Linked DNA regions of Homo sapiens: region 1 is linked to region 2. Evidence: fine-mapped expression QTL. A gene starts in region 2. The other region holds a variant in brackets. All regions are shown on one strand. Distances are between the middles of the regions. Region 1 has its middle 28 kb from the start of MTIF3. Region 2 holds the start of MTIF3 (mitochondrial translational initiation factor 3).

The links.
Region 1: its variant is fine-mapped to the expression of MTIF3 in lung (TOPMed, PIP above 0.99). The same link has a PIP of 0.9 or more in tibial nerve.

What each region holds. Positions count from the first base shown.
Region 1 is chr13:27,476,758-27,481,145 of GRCh38, forward strand. No RefSeq gene overlaps it. Among named protein-coding and RNA genes, the nearest start is that of MTIF3, 28 kb to the left of the region's middle. The variant C/A (reference allele first, on the strand shown) is at 2,618.
Region 2 is chr13:27,448,080-27,452,467 of GRCh38, forward strand. It overlaps MTIF3 (mitochondrial translational initiation factor 3), which reads right to left and starts at 2,485. Exons shown (of 5, transcript NM_152912.5): 1 at 2,430-2,485. RefSeq lists enhancers at 1,722-2,636, 2,480-2,839, 2,860-2,919.

The DNA.
Region 1 (4,388 bases), 29 kb after region 2:
GTGATTTGCCCACCTCAGCCTCCCAAAGTGCTGGGATTACAAGTGTGAGTCACTGTGCCTGGCCATTGCTTGAAGAATTTAGAGAATAAAACACCAGCACAGCACCCAGCATATAGTAGACACTCAGCAACATCACCGCCCTTCTTTTCTCTTACCCTAAATCTAGTCTGAAGGGAGATATGGGTGAGAACACATTTGCTCCCATAATTACCCTGAATTGTATTGGCTGACACGTAAAGCAGCATTTCCCTTGGAGAGAAGAATGGTGGAAAGGGTCTGGGGCCTTGGGTACCTTATAAGGTCCAGAAACCCTCTTGGCAAGGCCTGAATGCCCTACCTCAGCTCCATCAGCATTACCACCACCTGACCTTGTCCTGAGCCATAAGCCCTGGTGTTAGCTGTGGATACAGGAGCAAGGGCTTGGGGCAGGGGTGAAATTCTCCCTAGAACTACAACTGGAATGACACCCAGCAGGAGAAAGCCTCAATATGACTGTGTAAGATCACGGTGGTTCAGGAATCCCTTTTTTCCTACACTGTCCTGAGCAGGCTGAGCTCAGAACCACGAACATCTGCACACACGGGCAGCTGGCCCCGTCACCGGCCTCCAGGGGCAGTGCCCCCGCCATTATTAGTCATTACTAGAGCAAACATTAGTACAAGTACACACACAATTGCAGAATCATTGCTCTGATTGGAAACACTGGTGTGGAGTCTTGCAAGCATTCACTGGGTGAGACGGAAACTGTGAACTTGTTTTTCTAGGCTCAGACACTTCTTTCAGATCCAGGGCTGACAAAGAAAGGCCCATTACGTGGGGCACCTCCCCCAGGACTTCCTCTTCAAATATCAGCTAGATCAGGTTCCTTCTATGCAAATCATTTGCGCATTTATCCTGCTTTTCATTAACATAATATCTCCTGAGCCATCACCCTAGCCTCTCTCCTTTAAACATTTCACAGTCAAACGGAGCTCAACAGAAAGAGGGGTGATACCAGCGTCTTTGTTAAGGCGGTAGTCTTTATTCGTGTCTCCTCTGCCTGCTATATATTACTGTATGCCATAGCCACATCCAAAATGCTTTATTTTTTAGTGAAGAACAAAATAAAGCTGAGATGATCTACTCCTGGATTCAGAAGCCCCAAAATCTCAAGGAAATTGTGAATTCTACCTGTATGCACACAGTACACGATACTATGCTTGTTATCTATGAGACGGGCCAGATACTAGGTAGAACCTAAGAATAAATTGTGCAGCGGATGCGTTCTTTGCAAAAGACACTTATTACTGAGGACACATCTCCTCTGGATGGAGAAGTTATTCTGTGTAGGAGGGGGCTGAAGTGGGGGTTTCTACACCACCCTTTCTGGGAGAGCATGCTTCATTGCTTTGCCAGGTAGGGTCAGGTGGATGGGGTGGGCACCCCACAGTCCTATTCTGCTACTGACCACTTCCTCCCAATGGCACCTTTTTACAGTTTCTCACTTGATTTGTGCACACAAACACACAAGATCGTTCTTCTGGGGTCTGTATATGGTGATGTCGGCGTGTTTCCAATTCATTCTTCCTTTGTACCAGCACTTCGTAGGGAAACATAGGAGAGAACCCACTCGATGTTGTTAGGCTGAATTAATTTCATGTTTTGGGGTGGGAGGTAGGGGGACTTTCTGACTTCAAAGAGCCTTTGATTCTTATGTGATAAAACAGGGTACAGAACCATATATGATATAATCTTAGCTATGAATACAACCAACCCTGACACACCCACAAACACACACACAGGCTTGTGCATATATGCAATTTAAAAAAAGACTTCATACTGATACATCATAATGTTAAGAAAGCTTCTTCTGAGTGGCTGGGATTATCATTGGTTTTTAGTTTATTTTTTATTTTTTCTTTCAAAATGTCTATAGAAGCCTATATTACTCTTGTAATCAAAAAAGGTTACAAGAGTAACCTTTTATTTTGTTTCTTCTATAAAATAAAATCTTTTAATGTTTTTTCCTCTATAAAAATACCCTGGAAACTGATTAATTCTTAAGTAGTCATCAGGCAAATTTTTCAGAGGAATTAATTAACAGCTAGCTTAGAGCAAGGCATTGGAGAAATAGAACATGACATTAATATTCCAGGTTGAGGGAAAGATAGAGTGGTGACATGGAAGAGGAGAGGAGCTTGGCCATGCAGGATGATCTTACCAATGCCATGGCTTTCTTACTGGTGTTTATCTGGGACACACACATACACACAGCCTCTTCTTCTGCCATCTCCTAGTTCTGACACTCAGCCCTGAGCAGCCCTCAATCCAGCAGATGGAATACCTCCATGCCCAGGCTTTAAGGCCATAATCAAACTAATACTGTCTTAGTCTATTTTGTGCTGCTATACCAGAATACTTAAGAACATAAACTTTTTTCTCACAGCTCTGGAGGCTGAGTAGTCCAAGATCAAGACACTGTCATCTGGCAAGGGCCTTCTTGCTGAGTCCTCACGTGGCAGAAGACGGAAGAGTGAAAAAGAATCCAACTTCTGCTGTCAAGCCCTTTTAAAACAGTATTAATCTATTCAAAAGAGCAGAGCCCTTGTGACCCAAACACCTCCCAACACTGTTGCAT[C/A]GAGATTAAGTTTCCAACATATGGATTTTGAGGGACACATTCAGATCATAGCAGATATTAGCAGTCAAGGTCCAACCAGGAAAATGAAAATATCTCCAAATATTTAAAATGAGGAAAATAAATTTAAGAATTGGCTTCATAAATGAAGGAAGAGCTAAGAGGCCAACAGGGACCATGAAGCCACTGAGAGATTAGTACCAGCAGGAAGCCACTCCATGCACTTGGACTGATCGTTTCTGGTAAACCCACGGCTAAAGAAACCACAGAGGGAGGGAAGGAATGTCCTGGTTTCTCCCTTCCTTCCTCTCGTCTTCTACCAGCACCTCCCATGCCAAACCCAGCTGGCAGCAGCTGCCCCTGAATCCCACTGTGATACCAAGCAGGGCAGGGGAAGGAGGAGTAACAGGTCTGAGGGCAGGGAAGCTACAGACTGGACACCACCTATCATTGGGTCAAAGAGCCTGGGAGCTGCCAGCTTGTCCCTTTCCCTCCCACCCTACTCCCCTGCCTGTTAGCAGGATGCACTTGAATCATGCCAGGTAATTTTTTCCTAGTCTATATCATCTTTGTGCCAGATCACAAAGATGAAAATATTACATTAGTTAAAAACGACCTCGTAGTCATTTTCATAAATGAGGGAACTGAAGTTTCAGAATGGCAGTCCCTCTCAGCCCTTGCTTCCAAGTTCCACCAAACTGAGAACAACTTCAGGGGCCAGAGAGGATCAGCTTTATAACTGAAGCTCATATGAAAACTAGTCTGCCCCTGGGCAAGGTAGGGGCTTTCTTCTCCCTTTCCCAAAGTCACCAACTGAAAGTCCTGAATGTCAGCAGGCCGAGAAGCAGGAAGGGGAAATCCTCTAACTCAGGAGGGGCGTCCCCAAGAGCATATAGACCCAAGGAATAGGAGAGGAGGGCTGGGGCTGGAGTTGCTTTTTGGGCACAGTGATCTTACCTCTGCCACTGTGGTCCAATAGACAGAAGGTCTTGCTAATTAGATTACTATCTCTCCCTTGTAGGGGACTGCTATGCTTTGAATGTCCATCCCATCCAAAATTCATGTTGAAATTTAATCCTCAAAGGGGCAGTATTGAGAGGTGGGGCCTTCACGAGATGACTGGATCATGAGAGGGCTCTACCCTCATGAATGGATTAATCTATTCGTGGACTAGTGAATTAATGAGTTATGATAATAGGACTGACTGCTTTACAGGAAGTGGAAGAGAGACCTGAACTAGCATGTGAGCTTGCTCAGCCCCTCACATGTGATGCCCTGCACTGCCTGGGGATTCTGCAGAGAATCCCCACCAGCAGGAAGGCCCTCACCAGATGCAGCCCCTCGACCTTGACCTTCTAAACCTTCATGACTGTAAAAAAGAAATTTTTTTTCTTTATAAATTACCCAGCTTCAGGTATTCTGTTATAAGCAACAGAAAACAGATTAGGACAAGGAGTGAAAAAAGAGGTGAGGCATCCAAAGCTCCCTTTATATTTCCCTGAGTGGTACAAATGTACATAGAAGATCCTATTTTATGAGCCAAGGCAGGAATTAAAGAAATGAAACAGGAGGGAGGCCTCCTCCCACCCACACCTCCACCCTCAACTGTGAAGATAACTTGGGGCATTTGGGGGCTCCCTCAGCATTGAAGTTGTAGTCATGATAGAAAAAAAGGCTACCTGGGGCAAACGGAGTAGGACAAAATAAACCCACCCATACCTGACAACGAGAGATAAACAGATGAGAGATAATCTGTTTATCTCTCATAAACCTC
Region 2 (4,388 bases):
AAATATTTGCAGGGAAACTTCCTGGAACATGATTTAAATATGTGGTTTAGTAGATATGAGGGGTGGGTGGGTGGGCATTCTCGTCCTATAAAAAATTGCTTGCATGCATTTGAAATCATGTGGACTGAAGAGACGAAAATAACTTCTATTATTTGTTCACTCACTGCTTTTCTCATACAGCTGATATTCACAAGCTCATACTGTTATCTGTTCTTTCCTGGGAGATTGGATCAAAGTTGCATAGATTCTAGCGGACTAAATATTTGTGAAATTAATTTTGCCAATTCTCATGACTCTAAGAACTCTTTTACACCTTCCAAAGAAGTTTCATAAAGTCCTTGCTTCTGCCTGCAAACTGTCCCAGTTGCCCCATTCTGGCCTGAGCAGTGCAGCCTTAATCCCAGAGGGCCTGCGCTACCGTTACTGGGCCTTCATGCTCCCCTCCCTTGGCTCTGGTTTTGCTCTTCCATAGGGAGCACAAAGTGTACTCTCCATAATGAGGCTGAGCTGTTTACGTGCTAGAACTCCCATTTAGAACACTGGAAAAAGCCAACATTATATCTTTGGCCAACTATTTAACCTTATTTCTTTAGCTATTAAATTGAAATAATAACCATATGTTTTAAAAAGCTTTTAAACCCAGAGCTAAAGACTCTGTATTAAAAACTGGACTTACGGCCGGGCACGGTGGCTCACGCCTGTAATCCCAGCACTTTGGGGAGGCTGAGGAAGGCAGATCACTTGAGGTCAGAAGTTCAAGACCAGCCTGGCCGACATGGTGAAACCCCATCTCTACTAAAAATACAAAAAAACTAGCCGGGCCTGGTGGCGTGAGCCTGTATTCCCAGCTACTTGGGAGGCTGAGGCAGGAGAATCACTTGAACCCGGGAAGCAGAGGTTGCAATGAGCTGAGATCGTGCACCGCACTCCAGCCTAAGCATCCAGCCTAGGCAACAGGGTGAGACTCTCAAAAAAAATTTTTTTTTAACTTATTCTCCTATGTTAATCCTATGTTAGTCTTCTTCCAGAACTCTAGTGATGGGATCACTACCCATCCACAACCTCCAGTCACCTCCAAGACACCTTTGACGCCTCCACTTTCCCAGTCAACCCAACACCAAGCCTCATCGACTTCATTTCCTAAACCCCACTCGAATCCATCCAGTCCTCTCCGTATCCACTGTCACCACCGTCAGTTTAAAACATCGACCACCTCGTTTGGATTCCTGCCAGTCTCCTAACTCGGCTTGAGCCCTGGCAACCAGTTCCCACTGCACTGCGGTCACTACACCCAGGACCTTCCTCACCTTAAATAAAACTGCCCCGAGATTAAAGATCTACACCTTCGCCAGGCCAAAAGGCCCTTCCCACCTCTCCAGTTTCTTCTTTATGCCTAGGCCACACTGGCCATTCGGTTTTTGAAATACAGTACTCTCGTCCTTGGTTTAGGAAACGCCAGATCCTTAGCGCATTCTTCTGATTACCTTCCAAACTAAGCCAGTTCTCCCATCCCTCCCCCAATTTACTGAGCTTAACACTGAATGCTTCTACAGTCCAGTTGACCTTTCCTTTAAAACATTCATTACAATTACAGTTTTGTGATGATCTTAGCACTGCTGTTCTCCATCACTAGACCGTAAACTCTACGAAGCAGGAACAAAATGGACTTATTCGTTACTGTGTTGTGCCTGACAGAATGAATAGTAGTCGATTTTCAGATTCTTCTCTCCATCCTCTACTTTTCTAAGACTTAGGCCTTTCACAACACGTACTTGAAACTGAGACTTCTCAGTAAGAGAACTTCGTTTACTTGGTTCAAGTCTTAAGCCACGGAGCCCACTAAATGACAAATGAGAAAAAAAATCCCAGTCACTTCGCGACCTTCCCCCATAAGGCCTCCTCCCGCAACAGCAGGCAGCAAGAACAACGCATTTGTCCAGCATGTCCTGCGCAGGCGCCCTTCGCCTGGCTCGCTCTGCCCCACCTGTGCCAGGCAGTAAGCCGCAAGAGCACTTCCGGGAGCCCCCGACCCGGTTGTTGGTAAGTCGGCGGCGACGCCCACCTGCAGAACGGGACCGGCGGAGCGCCAGGGCTAGAGACGGGACGTAGCGACGTACTGCGTGCGTGCGTGCGCACAAACGAGGGCGCGCATGTCGGGACGGAACTAGAAAAGCTCAGTGGGGCTGGCGGCAACTCTAGGTCTAACATCCCTCGGAAGTTCGTGCAGCGGCCTCGCTGAAAATGGCTTTACAGCCCGGCAGAACCCTCCGACTCCGCAGCAGGACCTGCGGAGCCTCTCCGCCCTCGGTACCGGCGGGACGGGGTAGCCCTGACCTTCCGGGTGCCTCCTCCACAGGGGCGCCCCCTAAGGCCACGCCCTCCCGATGCCGGTCCGCGCACCGCTCCGCACGCCTCATATTTAGCATTACCTGTGCTGGGGCAAGCGATTGACATACTGTAGCGGACGCAAGTACAGCGGATCTGCGGCGAGTCCCCTTCGCTCTCCGTAGTGGGCGGGGCTTCACCCCGCGTCCTTTAAAGGAAAGGTGATGGGCGGAGCCACGTTTTTCTACTGTTGGGATTCAGTTCCGCCGACAGAAAATGCGGAGAACGCGGAGGAAGTCCCTGAGGGGAAATTGCTGCTCACCTGGCTCCCGCTGCTCCGCAGGTGCGGTGAAGGCTAATGTCGAATTTCTGCAGCAATCGGAGCAGCCCTTACTCCAGTTACATTAACACCAATCTCGGTCTCCCACTAGGGCTTTATAAATTGCTTTCATAAACGTCTTTTTAATGTAACACTGAATAAAATGTTTTATAAGCGTCTTTTATAAGGATCGTAAGTGAAAGGGCGCTGTCTCCGATTTGCAGGTGAGCAGACAGCTTCGGAGTGAGAACGGCTCCCCGCGGGTCCCCGGTGGCGCGCGGCTCCCGGAGGCAAAACAAAGCTGGGGCCGGGGCGTCGGAGCCTCCGCGTTGTAGTTGGGAGAGGTTCGAACGGGGCCCCAGCTGGCGAAAGGGAAAACGGACCCGGACCCGGACCCGTGGAGCCTGCTCGAAAGCCGGGTGCTGGGGGTCTGGGCCCCGTGTCCCCCCTCTTTTTCTTCTTCAATAAGAAATTCCTCAAGGGCAGACTGCGAGTCCACAGTCGTGAAGCCACCTAATCTGGCTTCATACCTGGAATGTTTGGATTCCTGGTACGAAGAAAAACTAACATTTATTGGCTACTTGTCCACTGGAAGGCGTTGTCTTATTTCTCATTAACTCCTTGAGTCAGCATTACGTCTTTTATTACAGATGACACAACTACTAAAGCTTTAAATAGTTCTTTGGGAGCAAAGACGAAATCTCCATTTCCTTTTTAGCTGCTGGTAGCTCGACGCTCACTGTTAAAATAGGGAGGTAATGAAACAACTCTTGTGTGAGACCGAAAGTCCAGGTGTGCATCTTGGCCATTTCCAAGTTAATCAAGAAGAATTAAGGATTCATTTTATTCTATCAAAATTATTTCTCAATGCCAAGATATTTTGTGTGACGTAGATTCGGGGACAGACTGAGTAGCACAATACCTGGGAAAAGTTAGGTGCTCAGCAATTATAATTGCCCACATTTGTGATTGCTTTTGCCTATGTGCCAGACACTGTTCTACGCACTGAACATATCTCAAGTTATTCAATCTTCAGGACAACCTTATGAGCCAATTATTATTATTACCCATTTTACAGATGAGGGAACTGAAACAAATTTGCCCAAGGTCGCACAACTAGTAGCAGAATCAAGAATAAAAAAGCCAAAAAACCCCAAACCCAGGCAAACTTTAAATGTTCCTTGCATTGCTAGACTGAAGTAGTGAGAGAAACAGTAAACAGTACGAGTCCATGAAAACATTAAAAGGATGTGAAGTATGTACAAGTAACTGAAACATTTAATGCCCAAACTAAAGACTTAAAATTTGCTAAGGTAATAGCACAGGTAGATTCACACCAAGTAATCACTGGTAACTGAAGCTACCGGCCAGCATCCATTTGCAGTCCGTCTTTGAAGGCAGCTGTGTCCAGAGCAGGTGGTTTAGGAAGCTTTCTAGACTTCCATTGTCAGATGTCTCCACGCCTAGAAGATGGTGCTTTAGTGTTCCTGGGAGGAGACATGCAGAGATGGGGTGGCAATTACAGACATGCCCACAGATGGAGAGAAGCCATTTTTTTCATCTTTTCCCTTGAACTCTTCTTTGACCTCCAGCCGAAATGGAGCTTGGCAGCTTTTGTGGGGTTTTTTGTTTTTTTGTTTTGTTTTGTTTTGTTTTGTTTTTGGAGATGGAGTCTCTCTGTGTCGCCCAGGCTGGAGTGCAGTGGCGCGATCTCGGCTCACTGCAACCTCCACCTCGCGGGTTC